Homo sapiens: one gene and its partners. The protein of the gene in region 7 purifies or fractionates together with the protein of the main gene of each other region. This does not show direct contact. Each region holds a gene or a part of one and is shown on either strand. Other genes may lie near its edges.

Region 1 (3,500 bases), on a different chromosome or scaffold from region 7:
GTGTCTCACTCATCGAGAAAACTGGTGTCTGGCCTGCAGCGAGCACGTGGTGTCATTTTGTTGCTGAATCTCTGTTAAGTGCTTGCTACCGAAGGGTCGTGAGAGGGGCAGAGGACAGTGTTTGCCAAGCTCTCATCCTGTGCCAGGGCCAATGAGAGGGGACACACAGGGGCCTTTCCTTCCTAATGCTGCTGTGCCTCCACTAACAAGAGCCCAGGTTTTGCCCCTGGTGACACCGTCCCTCCCACCGCACCCCCGCAGCCACAGCCAACTGACCAAGGGCAGCCAGTCAGCTCCTTCCTTCCTCCTCCAGCTTCAGCACTGACTCTGGGCTCCCACAAGCCCCTGCGCTTCCTCTGTCCCACCCGGGTCTCTCCTCGCAGATCATCACTCCCTGTCCCTCTCTGGCTACTTGCACAACCCGAAGCCAGAGCCGCTAACGACGCTTGCTTCTTCCTGTAAGTCACACATGTACGCGGTTGTCACCCAAAGAGCACAAACGCAGTCAAAGTCTTCCTCACACAAAACCCCCTGCACACGCTCACGGCTGCACCACTCACAAAAGGTGGAAGCAACCCTAATGTCCATCCACTGATGAAGGGATACGTCAGACGTGTTCTAGCCATACAGCGGAAAAGTACTCAGCAAAAAAGGGACACAGCACTGACGAAAGGCCGCCACACACATGAGCGATGAACACATTCAGAGAAAGCAGCCAGACACAAGAGGCTGCATATTCCAAGATCCCATTTATAGGAAATGCCCAGAATAGGCAGATCCATGGAGACAGAAAGTTAGATGAGTGGCTGCCAGGGGTGGGGGCAGATGGGCTGAATGCAGGGAGAGAGCTAAAGGATTTAGGCTTTTTGGGGTGATGAGAGAGTTCTAAAATTGACTGTGGTGATGGTTGCCTAACTCTGAACATACTAAATACCATTGAACTATATATACTTTAAATGGGTGAATTGTATAGTATGTGAATTATAGCTCAATAAAGCAGTTAGCAAATGAAGTCTTCTACCCTGTCCCCCAGGAAACCAGTTTCTTAGCTCTCCTTATAGAATGATGCATTAAAAGCAAATAGATTTATACATATGCCCTGCATTACAATAAAAAAGACGTCTACATACTCCCTGCATTACAATAAAAAAGACGTCTACATACTCCCTGCATTAAAAGCAAAAAGATTTCTACATACTCTTCTGCCCACCTTGTAAATTTGTTACTATTTTCATTTTATATATTTCCCCCTTAATATTTTGAAAAGTTTCAAACCTGCAGAGAAGGTACAAATTGAGTACAGTGAACAGCCATGGCCCTTTGCCTAGATTCACTGGCTGTTGGCATGACACCTCATTTGCTTTATGCTTTATCCAAGCACATGCATATACCTGTACCTTTTGTCCTTTTTTTGGCTGAACTATTTGAAAGTTGTGGTCATCATGATACTTCACCTCTGAAAACTCCAGCAGTTAACTCTTTTTTTTTTTTTTTTTTTTTTTTTGAGACGGAGTCTTGCTCTGTCACCCAGGCTGGAGTACAGTGGTGCGACCTTGGCTCACTGCAACCTCTGCCTCCCAGGTTCAAGCGATTCTCCTATTGCAGCTTCCTGAGTAGCTGGGACTATAGGCGCGCACCACCACATCTGGCTAATTTTTGTATTTTTAGTAAAGATGGGGTTTCACCATCTTTGCCAGGCTGCTCTTGAACTCCTGACCTTATGATCTACGTGCCTCTGCCTCCCAGAGTGCTGGGATTACAGGCATGAGCCACCGCACCTGGCCTCTTTTTTTTTTTTTGGTACAGTATTTTACTCTGTCATGCAGGTTGTAGTGCAGTGGGGTGGTCACAGCTCACTGCAGCCTCGACCTCCCCAGGCTCAGCTGATCCTCAGCCTCTCGAGTAGCTGGGACTAAAGGTGTGTGCCACCACACCCTGCTAATTTTTATATTGTTTATAGAGACAGGGTGTCACCATGTTGCCTAGGCTGATCTCAAACTCCTGGGTTCAAGCAATCCCCCTGCCTCGGCCTCCAAATGTCCTGGGATTACAGCCGTGAGCCACCGTACCTGGCCTCCAGCAGTCAGCTCTTAAGAACAGGGATGTCCGCCTGCAGAACTACAGTGTCATTGTCATCATCATGCAGTTTAACATGAGACAGTGACGTTATTGAATAGACGATTCTTATTTAGATCTGCCACGTGTCCCTGTAATATTCTTCAAGGCTATAAATAATTTCTTATTTTTTTTTTTTTTCCAAGACTGAGTCTTGCTCTATCGCCCAGGCTGGAGTGCAGTGGCACTATCTCGGCTCACTGCAACCTCTGCCTCCTGGGTTCAAGCCATTCTCTTGCCTCAGCCTCCCGAATAGCTGGAATTACAGGCATGCACCACCACGCCCGGCTAATTTTTTTGTATTTTTTGTAGAGACGGGGTTTCATTTTGGCCAGGCTGGTCTCGAACCCCTGACCTCAGGTGATCCGCCCGCCTTGGGCTCCCAAAGTGCTAGGATTACAGGCGTGAGCCACCATGTCCAGCCTGTTTTTTTTTTTGTTTTTTGTTTTGTTTTTTTTTTCTTTTTTGAAACAGAGCCTCATTGTCACCCAGGCTGGAGTGCAGTGGTGCGATCTTGGCTCACTGCAACCTCCACCTCCCAGGTTCAATCAATTCTCCTGCCTCAGCCTCCCGAGTAGCTAGGATTACAGGCGCCTGGCACCACGCCCAGCTAATTTTTATATTTTTAGTAGAGACAGGGTTTCACCATGTTGGCCAGGCTGGTCTCAAACTCTTGACCTCAGGTAATCCACCCACCTCAGCCTCTCATAGTGTTGGGATTACAGGTGTGAGCCACTGCGCCTGGCCAATAATTTCTTTTTTTCTTTTCTTTTCTTTTTTTTTTTTCAAGTTACATGAAGTAAATTTATTATTTACAGCTAGGCAACAAGGGAAAACCGAAGCATAGGATTCATTGTGAGCCAATCTCCCGAGACTCAGGAAGGTTGCCCCGGGAGGATGGAGTCTCATTTGTGTGTACCCCATTTGTACCTGGAAAGCAGACCATCTTGGGTTTTATATTCTGGAGGCAACATGACATGTTGGGCTAAAATGATGAAGGACATCCTGTTTCTAGGAGGGACTGGAACAGAGCCTGGGCTGTTTCAGCCAGTCCCTCCTTATCTCAGGATATTGCATTCCTAGCACATTCTACAGTTATTCTTGAGAACTATTTTTTTTTTTTTTTTAGTATTTATTGATCATTCTTGGGTGTTTCTTGGAGAGGGGGATTTGGCAGGGTCATAGGACAATAGTGGAGGGAAGGTCAGCAGATAAACAAGTGAACAAAAGTCTCTGGTTTTCCTAGGCAGAGGGCCCTGCGGCCTTCCGCAGTGTTTGTGTCCCTGGGTACTTGAGATTAGGGAGTGGTGATGACTCTTAAGGAGCATGCTGCCTTCAAGCATCTGTTTAACAAAGCACATCTTGCACCGCCCTTAATCCATTTA
Region 2 (3,500 bases), on a different chromosome or scaffold from region 7:
ATGTCACTAATTATACATCTAGGTCATAGTTTTCTTAAAAATAGAAATAGCTTTATTACATTTTCTGATTGTAAAAGTAGTATGGGCTCATTGCAAATAATTCAGAGAATACAGAAAAATAGAAAAAAATCACCCATAAACTCACCACGCAGAGTTCACTCTAAGTATATAGTTGGGTATAATGTTTGGGTATGTACCTTTTCAAAGTTTTTTTAGATGTTTGATATGTATAGCTAAATATTTTCATGTCAGTAAATATGCTCATAAATCATAATTTTTAATGGCTACATTGTATCCCATTATGTTGTTGAACTATAATTTAACCAATCCCTATAGTGCTTCTGGTTGGGTATTTTTACTTTTGACATTATGATGAGGATCTTTGGACATATCTTTGCATACTTGTCCATTACTTCCTAAGATAAACTCCTAGAGGTGTAATTGCTAATTCAAATAGTATGAACATTTTCAAAGGCTTTTCATATGTATTTCCAAATTTCTCTCCAAAAAGGTGTTCCAGTTCACTCTGCCAGCATGTGTTTGTGTCCCATATTCTAATACCATTCTTTTTTTAATAGTGGTCTGATTTATGAAAAATGTTATCTATGAAAATAATATTTCCTTAGTTAATAATGAAGGTTGTTTCCCCCATGTTGATTGACCATTGGTATTTTGGTAAATTTCCTGTTCATGTACTTTGTTCATTTTCAAAAATTGACATGGCCCCTTTATTCATTTGAAAGAATTATACATTAGGAGTATTAACTGTTTCCACATATTTTGCAGATATTTCCCCTAAATCTGTTAATGTTGAAAACTACTGGTTTGATTATAAATTTGTATATTAAATTTTTACCATCAGTGTGAAATTCAATAAGATAGAGTTATGGAGATAGTGTCTAATGCTGCAAACAGTCTGTGTAGTACGATACAGTGACCCAGTGTTGTTCTTTTTGTTAACAGGTAAGAAAAGAAGTTTTTGTTTTACGTTTTCTCAAATTCCTTTGGAGTAGAAGTGTTTTATCTTCATTCCTCAAGGCACCAAGCCTAATGCCATTGACCCCTTTAAGAATTCGTTTTTGAATTGTCTGAAACTTTTATTGACTTCATAATATCTTGAGTATTCGTTCTTATAAGTTAACTTAGTTACCTGGATCTTTGTTTAGAATCCTGGTTTCTTCTTTTTCTGAGGAGCAGCTGAACCGTTATGAAATGTATCGCCGCTCAGCTTTCCCTAAGGCAGCCATCAAAAGGGTAAGGATGGACCACCACACTTCATCTCCATCACGTTTTAGAACTGAACTCAAGAGCCATGTCCATTGGCATTTGAAGTGAGGTGTTAGACAAGTCAGGGGATTATTTAGGTGGGAAAAAAAATGCACTTCAGTTATCTTACCTTTTTCTGTGAATTACTTGGTACTGTGTTCCAAAGCCAGTCTTTGACTATTGTGATCACGGAGTCTTTGTGCTTCTTTCAAGCTGATCCAGTCCATCACTGGCACCTCTGTGTCTCAGAATGTTGTTATTGCTATGTCTGGTATTTCCAAGGTTTTCGTCGGGGAGGTGGTAGAAGAAGGTGAGTAGTGTTGGTTACAAATACTGGATTGTACCTGTGGTGGTCTTATTTTTAAGAATATCTACACAAAGGAGCTTATTAAAGCACCTATGGGAGTTCTCATTTGCACTTGAAGTTGACCAAGTGGGGAGCCCTTTATTTAGGAGAACATGACTGTTATTCCTTGCAAGTTTCAATAACAGATGGTAAGGAACCATCTGGGAAATCCCCTCCCTGATTCCTTTCCTCAGCCCAGGGTGAAAGAAGTAGACTTTGTATTTTCTGCAGTGGACTTTGCTCATTTCTGCTGCCAAAAGTAAAGATACAAGAAAAGCAATCACAGGGGTGACCTGTGTGGGATGGTGAGTTGTCCCTAATGTTGTGATCCCTAGGAACTGCCTGACCCCTTTATTGAGTAAAAAGCCTGGCTGTTTCCCATTGCTACTCTAGCTGGTGAAATTTTTTTTTTTTTTTTGAGCAGGAGATATATACTTTTAAATTATTATTATTTTTTGAGACAGGGTCTCACTCTGTCACCCAGGCTGGAGTGCAGTGGCATGATCTTTATTATTTTTTTTAATATTTTTTATTTTTCCTTTTACAAATCACAAATTAAGATGGTATACAAAATGAGATGGTAACAGTGGTGTGATCATAGCTCACTACAACCTCAAACTCCTGGGCTCAAAGGATCCTCTTGCCTCAGCCTCCCAAGTAGCTGGGACTGTAGGCGTGCACTACCATACCTGGCTAATTTTTAATTTTATTTTTATGTAGTTATTTGAGACAGGGTCTCACTCTGTCACCCAGGCTGGAGTGCCTTGATCATGCGATCACAGCTCACTGTAACAGTTAGCTCCTGGGCTCGGGTGATTCTCCTGCCTCAGTCTGAGTAGTTGAGACCACAGGTGCGCACCACCACCCCTGGCTAACTTTTTAATTTTTTGTAGAGACAAGGTTTGGCCATGTTGCCCAGGTTGGTCTCGAACTCCTAGGCTCAAGCAATCCTCCCACCTTGGCCTCCCTAACTGCTGGGATTATAGGCATGAGCCACAGCATATGGCCTATAGGAAATATATTTTAAACTGTTGTCTATGATAAAGCCTGTTATGAGACGTTATACTAATATTCTCTTAAAAAGGAAAAATGTCTGTTTATTTCCTTAGCAAGCTTAAGAAAAGTTAACAAGAATTACAGGACTCAAAAGGATTATGTGATTAGTAAATTATTGTGTGATAATCAGACTTTCTCCTTACCCTCTGTTTAGCACTGGATGTGTGTGAGAAGTGGGGAGAAATGCCACCACTACAACCCAAACATATGAGGGAAGCCGTTAGAAGGTTAAAGTCAAAAGGACAGATCCCTAACTCGAAGCACAAAAAAATCATCTTCTTCTAGACCAAAGTCTAGAAAGGCCTATGTTACTGACGGAAGAAGTATTGGTTCCAGACTTCCTATAAGACTGTCTGCATTGGTGCTTTAGTATCTCAGGCCTCCAAGGATTCCATGATGATTTTAATGTCTTTCTCAAAACTCTGATATTTGTCACACCTAGAAAGTATGTAGCCTGATTGATACTTGCCTTGACTAAATTTTGGGACCTCTTGGGGCATTTTGAAGTATTTAACTGTCTTGACCAGTTGGAAGAAGATACGTGGGCCATAAGCATCTTCTGGACAGGGGAACTGCTTTCAGAGAGAAAACCTTTCCAAGAGAGTTTTGTTTTGTTTTGGTTTCGTTTTGTTTGAGATAGGGTCTTGCTCTATCACCTAGGCTGGAGTGCAGCGGCATGACTGCAGCCTTGAACTCCTGGGCTTAAGTGACCCTCCCACCTCAGTCTCCTGAGTAGCTAGGACTACAGGCACACACTACTGTGCCCAGCTAACTTATTTTTATTTTTTATGGAGATGGGGTCTTGCTTTGTTGCCCAGGCTGGTCGTGAACT
Region 3 (3,500 bases), on a different chromosome or scaffold from region 7:
ATAGAGATGATATTTTATAGGATTATGAGGATTAAATGTGAAACAGTATAGTACTTGACATACAGTAAACTCTTGAAACATCTATTACTGTTATTACTGTTACACACAAAACAGTATAACACTAGAAAAATCAAAGGAATACAGTGTTTGTGAAAATAGAGATATCATTGTCAGACTAGGTTATTTGTAAGTATGTAGGAACTATATCTTCATCCATGAAATCATTATTTTCAGTGAGTACTCTCTCTTAAGACTCAGTTTAGCCTACATATAGGACAGCTAATTTAAATACCTCTGTTGTTTATGCCTTGTATTATTTTTGCTAAATCATAAATGGCTTCTACTTTAATATTGCAAAGCATATTGCAGAAATACCCTTTCAAAAGACATGTTGAGGAATAAAGTCTTTGGAAAGACATATCGCGAATTCCATCTGCCAATTCTTAATATTTTGTTCAGCTTGTTTTGTGTATTCTCAAGATTTTAAAGTAACTGCTAATGTAAAACATTACTAAAACATAAAAAGATTTATTTCATAAATGCAAATTGAAGCAGACAATTTATTCTTAAGAGACTGAACAATATCAAGAAAAAGAATCCTCTAAAATATGTGATACCAAATTCATGGTGTTTGACAATGGACAAACAGTATATACAAGGAAAGCACATTGGAGAAAGGGCTTTCTGGTTATTCAACCCCTCAAATTGGCAAGAAATTATTTGGCTTACCAGGGCTCTTTTGCCTGAAAATTAAATACAGGTAAAGGAACGTAATATATTCCTATGTTTGAGCCAATTTATAGCTACTTATTACTTGTGGATAGATTTAGCTAACGAATTATTAAATGTGAGTGATTTTGTTAATGTGCAACAGTGCACATGAATGGTTTGTACTTCATTTAAGAAGAGTCTAGTTAGCCAATTTTAGAATATTTCATTTCTTTTTTTTTTTTTTTTTTGAGACGGGGTCTTGCTCTGTCACTCAGGCTGGAGTGTAATGGTGCCATCTCTGCTTCAGCCTCCTAGGTTTAAGCGATCCTCCCAAGTAGCTTAAGCGATCCTCCCAAGTAGCTGGGACGACAGACACATGTCACAACACCCAGCTAATTTTTGTATTTTGGTAGAAATGGAGTTTTGCCGCATTTCCCAGGCTGGTCTCGAACTCCTGAGCTCAAGCAATCTACCCACCGTGGCCTCCCAAAATGCTGGAATTGCAGGTGTGAGCCACTGTGCCTGGCCTAGAATATTTGTTTTGACATGAATTTTATTTAGCTTCTCAATTCTTAGGACAGTATTTAAGTTCTAGATAACTTTAATATAAATAATCTTTTATAATTTTGCACACACTCATCATTATGTGGTAAACGTACATGCGTGCTTTTTCAACAACTATTGAATGAAATGTTTCATTCAAGAATTCTCATTCAAATAGCTTATATTTTTATAGTAGAAAAAAGGCATGCATTGAAAATTCAATTTTCGGGTTTTTTGTTTGTTTGTTTGTTTGCCATTTGTTTTCATGCATTTTTAGTAAATCATTAAAGAACAGTGCAAGGCCAGGTGCCGTGGCTCACAACTGTAATCCCAACACTTTGGGAGGCCGAGAAGGGAAGATCTCTTGAGCCCAGTAGTCCAAGACTAGCCTGGGCAACACAGACCTTGTCTCTACAAAAAAATTAAAAAATTAGCCGGACATGGTGATGCATGCCTATAGTCCCAGCTACATGGGAGGCTGAAATGGGAGGATCACTTGAACCCAGGAGTTGAAAGCTGCAGTGAGCTGTGATTGTGCCACTGCACTCTAGCCTGGGCAACAGAGTGAAACTTTGTCTCTAAAAAAATTTTTTTTAATATTAAAAAAAAGAACAATGCTAATAGGCATACTGAGCCTTTTTCTATTAATTTTTCTCATACTAATTTTTCATTTATCACTTTTTAAAGTGACTTAGGTTATACGGTTGAAACTACATGTCTTAATTTGTAGTTAAACCCCCATGGTTAAATAATTTTTTTTTTTTTTTTTTTTTTTTTTTGAGACAGGGTCTCACTTGTACCCAGGCTGGAGCGCAGTGGCATGCACGATCTTGACTCACTGCAGCCTTGACCTCCTGGGCTCAATCCATCCTCCCACCTTAGTCCCCCAAGTAAGAGGGACTACAGGTGCTTACCACCATGCCCGGCTAATTTTTTGTAGAGATAGGGTTTCATCATGCTCCCCAGGCTGGGCTCAAACTCTTGAGCTCAGGCAATCCGCCCGCCTCAAGCCTCCCAAAGTGCTAGGATTATAGGCGTGAGCCACTGTGCCCAGCCAGTAATATCCTTAGTTTGATGTATTTGGCTTATAAGTTCGGTACTGAATGGGGCTTTGAAGGATGGCCTGTTTCTCACTAAGCATGTAAAATGTTTAGCCCTGTCATCTGCTGTCCACTCAGCAGCGAGAGGGATTCTTTAAAAATACTAAGTCAAATGGGTTCAGAATTCTCCAGTGGCTTCTCATCTCATTGCTTAATTGCCTGTACAGATCTGGCTCTTTGTTGCCCCGCCTGTGATCTCTTCTCCCACCACTGTCCCTCACTTTCTCTGTTCTGTTCAGTGGACCTCCTGTATTACATAGTATGCACTCACACTCGTCACTATTTTTTTCTGTGCTTGCCTTCCTCTGTTACATGTATTCATCTCCTGCCTCTGATATGCAAGTTCCTTGAGGGCAGGAACTTTGTTTTGTTTACTGCTGTATTACTAACTCTTAGAACAATTATGACACATAGTAGGCGCTCAAATATTTTTGAATGAATACATTAAATTTGGTAAGTTGATATTTATTACAGAGGATATCCTTTAAATCCAGATATTTCTAATAATAAAAGCTAATAGTTATTGAGCATTTGCCATGTGCCAAGAACAAAGGTGACAACATTGTTATGTTCAATTTTCTTATGAGGAAATTGGGCACAGAATGCCAAGAGTGTGCCACAGATAGCACATCTAGAAGATAGTCTAGATTTAAATCTAGATGATATACTTTCAGAATATGTATTTAGCAGTTTATGCTAATCTTTTACAAGACATCATGTAAACAAAAAAATTGTTATACAGGCATACCTCAGAGATATTACAGGTTTAGTTCCAAACCACTGCAATAAAGTGAATATTGGAATAAAGCAAGTCATACAAATTTTTAGTTTCCCAGTTCATATAAAAGTTATGTTTCCACTATGTGGTAGTCTATTAAATGCACAATGGTATTATGTTTAAAAAAGTACATACCTTAATTTAAAAATATCTTATTGCTAAAAAGTACAGCCATCTGAGCTTTCAGCAGGTATTTATCATTCTGCTGGTGGAAAATCTTGCCTCCATGTTGATGGCTGCTGACTTATCAGGGTTGTGGGATTGCTGAAGTTTGGGGTGGCTGTGGCAATTTCTTAAAATAACAATGAAGTTTTCTGCATCATAGATTCTTCCTTTCACAGATGATTTCTCTGTAGCATGCAATGCTG
Region 4 (2,598 bases), on a different chromosome or scaffold from region 7:
CCCTAGTATCTCATTTTATAGATGGGGAGACTGAGAGCCAGAGAGAGGAAGGGACTTCCTAGAGTGCTGGAGCTGACAGTCCTGTCCCTGCCCTGGTGCCCCTTCCAACTGCATTTTACCAGAAAGGCTGTCTGACTTCCTGGGGAGGCTGAGAGTGAGGAGGGTATGAACCACTAGAAGCAGATGATCTGTAGAGGGGTCTGCGTTGAGCACATTGTGCAGAATTGGTGTCCTCTGCAAAGCTGCCCAGGTTTTAGCCTGCCTCAGGCCTCTCCTCTTCTGGGGCCAAGGGACAACCAGCTCTCAGCCCGGGAGCCTCTCTTTGAGGGGGAAGGTGGTGGTTCCCTGGTGCATCACCATCAGGAGATGATGGTACCATCAGCAGGCATTGTCAACACACCCTGGAGGCAAATGTCTTGAGTGGTGAGAGTACAGGTGGGCAGTGATATAACTTAGCTGGCTCCCAGTACTCTTGAGTGGTGAGAGTATTGGAGGGCAGTGATATAACTTAGCTGGCTCCCAGAGGGCAGGGGGCTCTCCAGTCCCACCGTCCACTCCTGCCTCCCTCAATTCCCCAGAGGGATAGACACTTGTGGAGTGAGGATTCTTCCAGGTGGGAGACACCCCCATCATTCTCTTGGGAGTTGTATCTCTTGCCCATCCCCAACTGTTCTATCCATATGCAGGTGCAGATACAAGTGCAAGGCAGCCCGGCACATTCCTGAGTGTTTGGGGCAGGGCTGAGTGAAACAAAGGCCAGCTTCCCGGGCCAGCCCTCACAGGCCTGTGTGACAGCATCCCCAGAACATTTGAGTGTGCGAAGGCCCTCTGGGAGACACTAAGTCAGGGGGCTTCTGGGGAATGGAAATAGAGATGTTCCTGTGCCCCAGGAGTTGTCTGATTTCTCTAACTGCCAGCTGCTGGAGGGCAGGGATGTTGTCCTGTTCATCACTGGGTCGTCACTAGGCAGGCCTTCATCATCTAGCTGGGATGTGTAGCTGGTAGAGGTGACGTCATAGTGTGACATTAGGAGTTTGTATGTGACTTGAGCATGATGCTTAATGTCTTTCAGTTTTCTCATCTATAGAATGGGCTTACTAATTTCTACTTCATTTAGTGTTTTTTTTTCTTTTTTTTTTTGGTGGCAGGTTAAATGACTGAAGTAAGCACTGAATAAACAATGTGGTTGTTATTAAAGTAGATAGTGACTGTGCCATGGGACGGATGGGAGGCCGAGGCGATGGGGGCAGTGCTGTGAGTCCAGAAGAGGAAGAAATCCTGCCCAAGTGAAGTAGTCAGGGCAGACTTCTTGGAGGAGGTGTCTCCAAAGTCAGGCATTGAAGGAGGGCAGGAGGTGGTGGAGCAGGGGCCTTCCCTGGTGCAGAGGAGAAGGGTGGTGAGTGGGAGGTCTTGGGTGATCTGTGAGGAGCTGAGCCCGGCTGGTTGAGGTGAGGAGGTGGTGGGGTCGGCAGTGAGAAGGTCGCACAGTTGGCCCTGCAAGGCGGATGGAGCTGCTTTCTGTTGCCCAAGAGCATGACAGGGGCTGGTCAGGATCCACAGAGTTCTTTCTGCTTCATCGCCTTGTGCTCCTGCCCCTGGGAGCTGTGGATCCCAGATCCAGATGACAGCCCACCTTGCTGGCAGGATGCGCCAATCCCCTGGGCCTGAAGAATAACAGCATCCCTGACAAGCAGATCACGGCCTCCAGCAGCTACAAGACCTGGGGCTTGCATCTCTTCAGCTGGAACCCCTCCTATGCACGGCTGGACAAGCAGGGCAACTTCAACGCCTGGGTTGCGGGGAGCTACGGTAACGATCAGTGGCTGCAGGTGGGTCAGCCTTCTTGGGATATGGGGCTGGGGTTGGGTGGGATGAGGTGGGACTGCCAGATCTTTGACCTCTCTCCAGCCCAGGCTTCTCTTCTGCTCCCCAAAAGAGTTCTGGAAAAGCCTTGTTTTTCTTCGGCTTTTCTTTCTTCTTCCCACCTGTACTCCCTTCTCTTGATCCTGCTTCCACCAAGGTGGAGAAAGGGTGTGTGTGTGTATGTGTGTGTGTGTGTGAATGTGTGTGTGTGAGTGTGTGAATGTGTGTGAATGTGAGTGTGTGTGAATGCGTGCGTGTGAATGCGTGCGTGTGAATGTGTGTGTGAATGTGTATGTGTGAATGTGTGTGTGTGAATGTGTGAATGTGTGTGTGAATGTGTGAGAATGTGTGTGAATGTGTGTGTGAGAATGTGTGTGTGAATGTGTGTGTGTGAATGTGTATGTGTGAATGTGTATTTGTGAATGTGTGTGAATGTGTATGTGAATGTGTATGTGAATGTGTATGTGTGAATGTGTGTGAATATGTGTGTGTGAGAATGTGTGTGTGTGTGTGAATGTGTGTGTGTGAATGTGTGTGTGTGAATGTGTGTGTATGTGTGTACACAAGGGGAGAGCCATTCCATGGGCTGCCACAGGATTGACAAGGCTCAGCCTATGGACAGACAGCAGGGCGGAGGCGGAAGAGGGAGACATGACCCAGGCATCTTGGGACCTCTCCCTTGAGCACAGCATACATATTCTCTGACTCAGTGTCTAAGAAGCCACCATGTGACAG
Region 5 (3,500 bases), on a different chromosome or scaffold from region 7:
AAGGTCTTTAAAAACGTCTACAGAATTTAAAGTAATATAAATTAAGTTTTTAAAGTTCAGTGGTAAATTGAATACGAAGCATCCTATATTCTATTTATCTAACCTTGACCCTGCCTAGCAATTAAATAGCAGTAAGTATACAGTTGCTATTAATTTAAGTGTACAATTAACATGGGCATATTTAAATATATATCTTCAGAAGCTACTGAAAACCTGAATTCTTTTTTTTAGTATGACTGGCTGGCTTTTAAACTCCTCAACGTACCTTTAATCTTATGTAAACTTAAAGGCTAATCAGTAAATTACCACATTCAATTAACTGACATATTGCCAATAGCTAGTCTTTTTCTTGCAAGTTATAGCAGATAATTGCAATTTTCCAGAACTGGTTAATTTAATATTAGGTCACTTTAAATATCAAATATGTTAAAGTGAGGATAAAAGAAAGCAAACATTAATAAAGCTTGATATTAATGAACAGAGATGGATTTCTGCTTACTTTGCACATTACTTAATTGATCTTAATATTCTTACCATGATTCTTATCTTCACTGCCTTACATATTCTTGCTGTCTTAATTTTTTTAATGTTTTTTTTTCCTTATTCCACTCCACCTTAAAGTTAAGTATGTTTCTTGCAAGACTCTCAAGAGCATACCGGTATTTTATTTACTAAAATTTGCACTGTCACTGTGAGTTTTTTTTTTTTTAAATAAGTATCATTACTGTTTTATAAGTGAAGGTAAAAAAGTGTTATGTGGTGGTTTCAAGCAGGATTTTAAAACCAGGTCCTTGTTTCTCCAGTTCACTGACCTTTACAGTGTTATCAATTCTTTCTAAATGATACCATCTATCTCACCTATTTATCTGTATCATTCCCAACTAGACAACGTCCACAAGACCTAAGAACCAACCAGTCCAGGGCTCCTAAGGACTTTCCCATTAACAAAGAATAACTCGTCTTGCTCCTAAACTTGGAATGCATATATCCAAAACACTACTGCAACCACAATCTGTCCCAAACTGACCACATCACATCTCTGCTAAAATTCAATAGCTCCCACCTGCCTTCAGAATAAAAACCAACACTCTTTAGAAAGCTAAGTAAAGTCCTTTAATTAAGAGAACTCGTATCTCTGTAGTCACTCTCCCAAACAGCACCACCATCTCTATCCTACACTCCCCACTTTTTACTTCAAATTCTGTATTGTTTGAACTTTCACAGCAAGAATGTCTTCATAGTCTACCTTCCATTTAAAAAAGGAAACCAAAGCAAAACATGGCAATATAAAGATAATTTTGTCAATATGGTCAATATAATTTTGTTCCACGTTCAGTCTTCCTCATGCTTAGTCATTAGTAAAAACAGGAGTTTTGGAGATTCCCCTTTATACTCCTCTCCACACCCCCTCACGTTCAGCTTCTTAAGCTACTACCTGGGAGTATTACATTTATCAGTAATTGTTTCATTCAGGTTTGGTGTGTGGGCTATAGTTTATTGATCCCTGAACCTAATGCATAATTACATTTAACAAAAAATACACATCAGTTTGTAAATTATTATATCAGACTTAACTGGAAAAAATAGCATTTCTGAAGGTAAATTAATTCTGCAGTGAATTTGTAGCCAATAGCTCCAGTCTAGGGTTGGGAAATACTAAAATAATGATAGATACTGTGAGAGACATACCCAATAAGGTACTGACATTTACTTCTAAGAGAACCACTCAACTAAACAAAACCATAAAATTATATCTAAATATGAAAAAAGTCCTAAAGCTAACATGTTTTAAGTTTACATAAGAACACTTGAAGAATTCAAACATCATGCCACATGACCAAGTTACTGACAAGATCACTTGTTGATGAGGTCCTTAAATAAATCCATTTGCCTGAAGTTCAAGATAGACTCCCCTTACACTATACTGATTTAAAAATTCAGTAACATCTGCCCATGGGGGAGAAATGCTATATGAACCACTTGACCAGTGTTAAAAAAAACTAGTAAATCAGAAAAATTTTATCAAACAACATTTATCAGGCATTTTCTGTGATCATCTATATAAGAAAACAAAAGAGGTAAAGCCCTTAGGATCTATGTCCCAGCTTACTGTCTGGAGAAAGTTTCCAGGTTGCAGCACAGGAACAGAGAACAGAAACACAATCCCGAGACATCGCCAAATTGAGAAGTCAGAGATACATGAAGTTCGTATGGCCAAGGAGGTGAGACTTGTGAGGAAGAGTACTTCAGAAAAGGGAGACACATGAGAGAACTTTGGAGATCTGCATAAAAGTCTCCTCCAGTCTCTGCATAAGTTTGAGAGGAAACTCCCCAAGTCCAGGAAAAGAACTAGTAGCAGGTTGAATAACTTTTGGGAGTTTGCACAGAGCTAGGAATAGTTCATGATCCCATGGGCCAAACTGGAGAAACTTGTAAATACACAGGGAATTGGGTCCAGTCCTCAGAACGACTATATTGGCCATGAATTAAAGGCTGTTCTTTACTTACCTTAAGAAAGATAGAAAACAAATCTCAGATCAAATTTGGGTCTCAGTAACTTAAGTGGATGGCAAAACAAACTCTTACGTTCTTTAAAGGAATAAAACAAAATCTAGCACAACAGCATAAGATTCACAATGTATGTATGACATCCAATATAAAACATAATAGGACGCTATAAAATGGATGAACTTCAAAATCATGGTAAGTAAAAGAAGCCAAAAACAAAAGGCCACATTTTATGATTCCATTTATATGAAATATACTGATAAAGAAAATACACAGAAACAAAATGTAGAGACTGGTGGGTGCCAGTTACACAGAAACAGAATGTAGAGACTGGTGGGTGCCAGTTGCTGGGGGAGGAGGAATGGTGAACAATTACTTTTTGGCTATGGGGTTTCCTTTTAGGGTGATGAAAATATTTTCGAATGACATAGAGGTGGTGGTTGTACTACATTATAAATGCCAGCCTGGGCAACATGGCAAAACACTGTCTCTACAAAAAATACAAAAAAGGCCAGGCATGGTGGCTCACGCCTGTAATCCCACCACATTGGGAGGCCGAGGCAGGCAGATCACTTGAGGTCAGGAGTTCAAGACCAGCCTGGTCAACATGGTGAAATCTGTCTCTACAAAAAATACAAAAATTAGCTGGGCATGGTGGCGGGTGCCTGTAATCCCAGCTACTCGAGAGGCTGAGGCAAGAGAATCTCTTGAACCTGAAGGTGGAGGCTGCAGTGAGCAGAGATTGCACCACTGCACTCCAGCCTGGGCAACAGAGCGAGACTCCACCTCAAAAATAAAAACAAAAACACGAGCCAGGCATGTTAGCATATGCCTGTAGTCTCGGCTACTCAGGAGGGTGATATGGGATAACTGCTTGAGCCTGATAGGTCAAGGGTGCAGTGAGCCTTGAGCACACCACTGCACTCCAGCCTGGGCAACCAAGCAAGACTTTGTAAATAAATAAATAAACAAATGTCACTGAACTGTTCACT
Region 6 (3,500 bases), about 44 Mb from region 7:
AATATTATTTGTTTATTTATTTATTGAGATGGGGTCTCACTCTGCCACCCAGGCTGGAGTGCAGTGGTGCGATCTCAGCTCACTGTAAGCTCCACTTCTCAGGCTCAAGCAATCCTCCCACCTCGGCCTCCCGAGTAGCTGGGACCACAGGCGCATGCCACCAGGCCCAGCTAATTTTTGTAACTTTTTGGGTGGAGACGGGGTTTCACCATGTTGCCCAGGCTGGTCTCAAACTCCTGGGCTAAGGTGATCCACCTGCCTCAGCCTCCCAAAGTGCTGGGATTGCAGGTGTGAGCCACTGTGCCTGGCCAAGAATATTGTTTCTATGAAAAAAGTTAATACTTTACTTTGGAAAGAAAATATGCTGTCAAACTAGGAATGGAATGAATAAGACAGTTATTTAAAAAGTGGAAGTGGGCTATAAAAATCTAGAAAGAATCAGCATTCAGGTTGCATCAGTGTCTAAGATCTTATTTGACTTTAAAGAGACCCAAACTGGGAATTATAAGCAGTGCATTGTGGGTGTAGGATATGCAGAAAAACAACACAGAAGTCTAATCAGTGAATTCATATTCAAAAGGCCTTATATTTTTTAAATAGCAAGTGATTCTACATTGATATATTTCTGATAAAATATTGAAATATTTTAAGATATGTATAATGTTTTATGACTTCCTAGCATAAGACCTTTTTCTTTTTTGAGACAAGGTTTTGCTCTGTAGCCCAGGCTGGAGTGCAGTGGCGTGATCAGAACTCGCTGCAACTACCTCCCCAGCTCAAGCAATCCTCCCTCCTCAGCCCTGGAAGTAGCTGAAACTACAGGCACGTGCCACCACACCTGGCTGATTTTTTATATTTTTTGTAGAGATGGAGATTTGCCTGCCTCAGCCTCCCAAAGTGCCAGTATTACAGGCATGAGCCATTGTGCCCGGCCTTAAGACCTTTTGATTAACTGATCAACTATTGTCCTGACTATATCAAATAAGAGGATTTCTAACTCAGGAACCTCTCAACATCTAGCACCATTTTCCAGAACTTAGTTCATTTAAAGAGGAAACAGGAAATCCCAGAGACACAAAGTAATACAAAAAGTTTCACACTTACTGTCAGTTCCTTCATGGTAATGTTCAAATACTGGCAAAGTAACACCTGTTAAACACAGAAGCATACATGGATTCATAAACCTTTAAGTTCTCTCTTTTTTTTTTTTTTCTGAGACGGAGTTTTGCTCTTGTCGCCGAGGCTGGAATGCAATGGCGTGATCTCGCCTCACCGCAACCTCTGCCTCCCAGGTTCAAGCAATTCTCCTGGTCAGCCTCCTGAATAGGTGGGATTACAGGCATGCACCACCACACCCGGCTAATTTTGTATTTTTAGTAGACACGGGGTTTCTCCATGTTGGTAAGGTTGGTCTTGAACTTCCGACCTCAGGTGATCCACCCGCCTAAACCTCCCAAAGTGCTGGGATTACAGGTATGAGCCACCGCGCCTGGCCTAAATTCTGTTTCTTAATCACTGTTTTCTGTGTTTCTTTTTCATCAAACTCAAAAATCAAGAGCTTAAGTATGGAATTGTAATTGGTTTCAATTAATGAATTTAGGAACTTGCCTTCTTTTTTTTTTTTTGAGACAGAGTCTCACTCTGTCGCCCAGGCTGCAGTGCAGTGGTGTGGTCTTCAGCTCACTGCAACCACCGCCTCCTGGGGTCAAGTGATTCTCCCACCTCAGCCTCCTGAGTAGCTGGGACAACAGGCACATGCCATGCCCAGCTAATTTTTTTTTTTTTTTAAAGATGAGTTTCGCTCTTGTTGCCTGGGCTGGAGTACAATGGCGCAATCTCGGCTCACCACAACCTCTGCCTCCTGGGTCCAAGTGAGTCTCCTGCCTCAGCCTCTCAAGTAGCTGGGATTACAGGCATGCGCTACCACGTCTGGCTTATTTTGTATTTTTAGTAGAGACAGGATTTCTCCATATTAGGCTGGTCTCGAACTCCCGACCTCAGGCGATCCGCCCACCTTGGCTTCCCAAAGCACTGGGATTACAGGTGTGAGCCATCACACCCGGCCTAATTTTTGTATTCTTTGGTAAAGATGGGGTTTCACCATGTTGGCCAGGCTGGTCTCGAACTCCTGACCTTGTGATCCGCCCACCTCAGCCTCCCAAAGTGCTGGGATTACAGGTGTGAGCCACCACATCCAGTGGAACCTGACTTCTTTATTTTTTTATTTTTTATTTTTAGACAGAGTCTTGCTCTGTCACCCAGGCTGGAGTGCAGTGGTGCAATCTCGGCTCACTGGAACCTCCGCTTCCCGGGTTCAAGCGATTCTCCTGCCTCAGCCTCCCAAGTAGCTGGGGCTACAGGCGCGTGCCACCAAACCTGGCTAATTTTTGTATTATTAGTAGAGATGGGGTTTCACCATGTTGGCCAGGCTGGTCTCGAACTCCTGACCTTGTGATTCGCCCACCTCGGCCTCCCAAAGTGCTGGGATTACAGGCATGAGCCACCGTGCCCAGCCGGAACCTGCCTTCTTAAGTGTTCACTTCTATACAAAAGTCAAGTTATCCTGAGTAATTAGAAACCTGGTTGTTAATGATTTTAACATGTAAAGCCAATCAACTTGTTCTAAGTAGAAGGAAGAAACTAGGACATTAAGATCTTGCTGTATAAACAGGTTAATTTTAAAATGTCACCTCTTTTCTCCCCAAAGGGTTTCTAAAAGGTTGAAACGTTACCTGCTACATTATCTTTCTTCGCTCGAATCTTCACTTGCGCTTTATTGACATTTTGGATAACTGTAGTGCTGCAGAAAAAGAGAAAGACTTTATTTAGCAGACTCTTCAGAAATAAACCTACAGGGACCCACTGGATAGTTTTAACATTAAATGAGACCAAGAGTGAGATGTCACAATTAAGTATGTTTTGATAACTGTCCTTTTTCCAAAAAGGGAGAAAAGTCATTACTGCTAGAGGAGGGCCTCTGAAAGCAGAGAATGAACAATATTCAAAACATTAGCAGTAAGAAAAGAACAAAGAATGATTTTAAAGTTCGTGGATTGCTTATGTTTTCAGTCAGAGGTGTGCTACATGGATATAACTTTAAGGATTCTTCTGCTAGTGTGAGATAGAGAAAACTCCTTTCTAGGTTTGCTATTGAATTGGTTAAGCTGGCGTTCAATTCCTTTACCCTGGAAACTATGTTCCATCTGGCTTTGTGTGACTTCTCAAATGTTACCAGAAAGTGCCTTCCTGGCAGGGTGCGATAGCTCACGCCTGTAATCCTGGCACTTTGGGAGGCCGAGGCAGGAGGATTGTTTGAGGCCAGGAGTTCAAAACCAGCCTGGGCAATGTGGTGAAACTCAAAAATACAAAAATTAGCCAGTCTCATAACCCAATCTCAAAACAAAACAAAAATAAATATTATAGAAAGTATCTTCCCCATAACCACCCTAAAACACTCACATACCACTTATACACTATTGATTGATCTCCACCCTCTGCTA
Region 7 (3,210 bases):
TGGAGCTGGGACAGGTCAGCATCCATCTTCTTCTTCTGGTTGATGAGGCTGGTGTTCTGGGTTGGGGGAGGGTTGGGCAGAGCAGGAAAAGCATTGAGCATCTATGCATAGCTCTCAAGCCTTGCTTGCTGAGCCCCAGCCTGTGCTCCCTTCAGGAATGAGCAGGGGAGCTGCTCACCTGGGAATGCAGCAGCTGCACCCGCTCACTAGTCTCAATCAGCTCCTGCTCCGCCAGCTTCCGGGACCGCTCTGTCTGCTCCACCACGGCACGCAACTCCTCCAGCTCAGCCTGCAGCAGGTTGTTGCGCCGCTCCACGATGGCGATGTTCTCCTTCAGGTCGTCGTTGGCACGGACTGCATCGTCCAGCTGAATCTGGGTGTCCTGAGGATCAGGAGAGTGGGCATGAGCAGGGAGCCAGCCTCGGTTCCCTTCACTAAAGGCACCTGTCAGAGGTCCCTGCAGTAACCTAGGGGCAGGAGGAATCTGGTGCCTGTATCAAGACACTACTGCTTCGCCAGGCCACGTGGAGGCCAGTCCCCTCTGGGTGAGTACCTTCAACAAGCTCTGGAGGCTCTTGACTTGCTTCTGGGCCTCGGCGGCCATGCGGTTGGCGTGGCTGAGCTGGATCTCCATCTCATTGAGGTCTCCTTCCATCTTCTTCTTCACCCTCAGGGCCTCGTTGCGGCTGCGTGTCTCTGCGTCCAGGGAGGTCTGCAGCGAGTCCACCACCCGCAGGTGGTTGCGCTTGGCCTGTTCCATCTCCTCGTCCTTCTCTGCCAGCTTCCGCTCGATCTCTGCCTTGATCTGGTTGAACTCCAGCTGGGCCCGGAGGATCTTGCCCTCCTCGTGCTCCAGGGAGGCCTGGGAAGGGGTTGGGGGAGGGGATGCAGGCAGACAGTCAGGGCACAGGGCAGGGTGGGGGCCTGCTCACTAATCATGGATACGAAGTGACTTCAAGAGTGGTGTAAGTGGTTCAAAGAAGCAGAAGGTGGAGGAAAAGAGAATCTAAGAGAAAATAAAAATAAGCCTAAGAGAAAGTGATTCAGGCCCTCACAGGGGAGAGCCAGCTATGAAGACAAGGAGGAAAATGAAGAGAAAAGTGTTGCCAAGGAAACAGAGGCAATCAGGTATAGAGTATAAAAGAAAACAGAGGGAGGCAGAGGTGGGAACCGGGAGGTATGTGGAAATGGGAAGCTCAGCTAAGATGCAATGGGTAAAATGTTTATGTGAAGAGAGTTCAGTGACTGGTCATTCATTCACTCCACAAATCTTCACTGAATGCCTACTATGTGCCAGGCTCTGTCCTAGGCTCTGGGGATGGGACAGTGAACAAAACGGACAAAGCGGGGGATGAGAACAGGGACCAAAAGCCTGGAGCTCAGCTCCCTGCACCCCGTGCCCTGCACACACACACACCTCGGCCTCCTCCAGGGCTGACTGCAGCTCCATCTTCTCGGCCTCCAGCTGCTTTCGGACCTTCTCCAGCTCATGGATAGTCTTTCCGCTGGAACCCAACTGCTCAGTCAAGTCGGAGATCTCCTCTGTGTGGGGAACACGGTAACTCGGTTGAGGGCTGCTGAGGTCCAGTGGAGTTGGAGGGACACGCCTCTTTGCCCAGACGCCTCTTGGAGCCCTTGGGTGGCACCATATGGGAACACTGCCAGTGCAGCCCCTCCCCAGCCTCTTGGGCCCCCAGCACACCCTGCAGGTTTTTGTTCTCCCGCTTGAAGGTCTCCAGATGTTCCAGGGACTCCTCATAGGCGTTCTTGAGTTTGAAGAGCTCTGTGCTGAGGGAGCGAGCCTCCTTCTGCGAGGACTCCAGCTCCGACTGCGACTCCTCATACTTCTGCTTCCACTCGGCCAGGATCTGCCCGGGGACAAGGCTCACTCTTCAGCCCCCCAGCCTCAGCCCCATGTCCAGGGTCTGTCTCAGGACCTGCCTGGGCTCAGCCCTCCTCCCCCACCTCCAAGGAGGATGGCTCTGGCCTCTCACTGAACCCCTCATGCCCCCTTGCCCTGCATGCTGGCTGCGGCCCCCACCCAGGGCCCACCTTGTCGAAGTTCCTCTGCTTCTTGTCCAGGGCTGCAGCAGCAGCATTGGAGCGCTCTACGTCCACCATCAAGTCCTCGATCTCATTCTGTAGCCGGTGCTTGGTCTTCTCCAGCGAGGAGCACTTGGCATTAACAGCCTCCACGGCCTCCTCAGCTTCCTGCAGCCGCTGGGCCAGCTTCTTCCTGCCCAGGGGAGGGTGGCAGAGGGTGGGGAGGATGGAGGGTGTGGATGGGGACAAGAGGAAACAACATGAACCTTCTCAAAGACAATCCTTGAAACCTCAGAAGTGTAGCTGGAGAAGCCTGAGGACAGGTCCCAGGGGCCGAGAACATCAGGCAGAGGATCCCAGCAGGGCGTGGAGACCCAGGCACCCTCTGACCCTGGCCCAGCCTCTGCGCTATGGACATTGAGGAGGTATGGGCTTCTGCAGCCCTCCCCACTGCCTTTCCCTGCCACAGTGCCCTGCCCCAGACGGAAGCACTCTGCCCTCAGACAAACCTTTTGTTCGTCTTATATTCGGATCAGAAACATAATTCGAGCAAAAAGCTTCCCTGAGAGGAGAAGGAGGTGGGGCCGGGGCAGAGTCCTCCTGTGTTGTCAAACACTAGCTAAGCATCGCCTGTGTGGGATCTGCTGAGGCTGGGGCTGGGCTGAGTCCTGCCTGCAAAGGGGCCTCAGCCAGAAGTCAGGCTGCTCAGAACTCACTTGGCCTCCTCGAGCTCCTCAGTCCGCTGAATGGCGTCCGTCTCATACTTGGTCCTCCACTGGGCCACCTCCGAGTTGGCCTTGGAAAGGACGCGCTGCAGCTCGGCCTTGGCCTCCGTCTCCTCCTCGTACTGCTCCCGCAGCAGGTCGCAGTCATGCCGGGCCGACTGCAGTGCGTGGGCCAGGGCGTTCTTCGCCTGGGGAGGGGTGGGCACCAGGAGGTGGGTTCAGCTTTCTCCATAAAGCAACCCCACCCTTGCCCTTCTCCTCACCCCAATCTCAACATCATCCCTTGGCCTCATCTATGTCCAAACCCCCAGTGGACCTGTCATGGTTTACTGTTTGCTGATAACAAAGAATGCCAATACAGCAGTGAACTATTTAAGAAAAGCTTCATGGCCATTGGCCCTGAGCTCCTCCCCACACCAGACATGGTCATCATCACCGCCAT

Evidence for each region.
Region 1: the proteins of MYH7 (region 7) and POLD1 purify together in Homo sapiens (affinity purification with mass spectrometry; one large-scale study listed by BioGRID and IntAct). This does not show direct contact.
Region 2: the proteins of MYH7 (region 7) and TAF11 purify together in Homo sapiens (affinity purification with mass spectrometry; one large-scale study listed by BioGRID and IntAct). This does not show direct contact.
Region 3: the proteins of MYH7 (region 7) and CLINT1 purify together in Homo sapiens (affinity purification with mass spectrometry; one large-scale study listed by BioGRID and IntAct). This does not show direct contact.
Region 4: the proteins of MYH7 (region 7) and MFGE8 purify together in Homo sapiens (co-immunoprecipitation; one large-scale study listed by IntAct). This does not show direct contact.
Region 5: the proteins of MYH7 (region 7) and PPP3R1 purify together in Homo sapiens (affinity purification with mass spectrometry, with the first as the bait; one large-scale study listed by BioGRID). This does not show direct contact.
Region 6: the proteins of MYH7 (region 7) and ATP6V1D purify together in Homo sapiens (affinity purification with mass spectrometry; one large-scale study listed by BioGRID and IntAct). This does not show direct contact.

What each region holds. Positions count from the first base shown.
Region 1 is NC_000019.10:50,387,347-50,390,846, forward strand, and holds part of POLD1 (DNA polymerase delta catalytic subunit), read left to right. Parts: intron 1-313; exon of another isoform or gene 314-458; intron 459-3,500. UniProt on the Homo sapiens protein: As the catalytic component of the trimeric (Pol-delta3 complex) and tetrameric DNA polymerase delta complexes (Pol-delta4 complex), plays a crucial role in high fidelity genome replication, including in lagging strand synthesis, and repair.
Region 2 is NC_000006.12:34,878,043-34,881,542, reverse strand, and holds part of TAF11 (transcription initiation factor TFIID subunit 11), read left to right. Parts: intron 1-1,166; coding exon 1,167-1,254; intron 1,255-1,479; coding exon 1,480-1,576; intron 1,577-2,822; coding exon 2,823-2,953; 3' UTR 2,954-3,500. UniProt on the Homo sapiens protein: The TFIID basal transcription factor complex plays a major role in the initiation of RNA polymerase II (Pol II)-dependent transcription.
Region 3 is NC_000005.10:157,849,146-157,852,645, reverse strand, and holds part of CLINT1 (clathrin interactor 1), read left to right. Parts: intron 1-3,500. UniProt on the Homo sapiens protein: Binds to membranes enriched in phosphatidylinositol 4,5-bisphosphate (PtdIns(4,5)P2). May have a role in transport via clathrin-coated vesicles from the trans-Golgi network to endosomes. Stimulates clathrin assembly.
Region 4 is NC_000015.10:88,900,782-88,903,379, reverse strand, and holds part of MFGE8 (lactadherin isoform a preproprotein), read left to right. Parts: exon of another isoform or gene 1-1,197; intron 1,198-1,644; coding exon 1,645-1,829; intron 1,830-2,598.
Region 5 is NC_000002.12:68,218,033-68,221,532, forward strand, and holds part of PPP3R1 (calcineurin subunit B type 1), read right to left. Parts: intron 1-3,500. UniProt on the Homo sapiens protein: Regulatory subunit of calcineurin, a calcium-dependent, calmodulin stimulated protein phosphatase. Confers calcium sensitivity.
Region 6 is NC_000014.9:67,346,305-67,349,804, forward strand, and holds part of ATP6V1D (V-type proton ATPase subunit D), read right to left. Parts: intron 2,801-3,500; coding exon 2,733-2,800; intron 1,150-2,732; coding exon 1,105-1,149; intron 1-1,104. UniProt on the Homo sapiens protein: Subunit of the V1 complex of vacuolar(H+)-ATPase (V-ATPase), a multisubunit enzyme composed of a peripheral complex (V1) that hydrolyzes ATP and a membrane integral complex (V0) that translocates protons.
Region 7 is NC_000014.9:23,415,451-23,418,660, forward strand, and holds part of MYH7 (myosin-7), read right to left. Parts: intron 2,957-3,210; coding exon 2,760-2,956; intron 2,614-2,759; exon of another isoform or gene 2,537-2,613; intron 2,237-2,536; coding exon 2,053-2,236; intron 1,924-2,052; exon of another isoform or gene 1,869-1,923; coding exon 1,703-1,868; intron 1,559-1,702; exon of another isoform or gene 1,543-1,558; coding exon 1,418-1,542; intron 863-1,417; coding exon 554-862; exon of another isoform or gene 551-553; intron 383-550; coding exon 179-382; exon of another isoform or gene 171-178; intron 57-170; coding exon 1-56. UniProt on the Homo sapiens protein: Myosins are actin-based motor molecules with ATPase activity essential for muscle contraction. Forms regular bipolar thick filaments that, together with actin thin filaments, constitute the fundamental contractile unit of skeletal and cardiac muscle.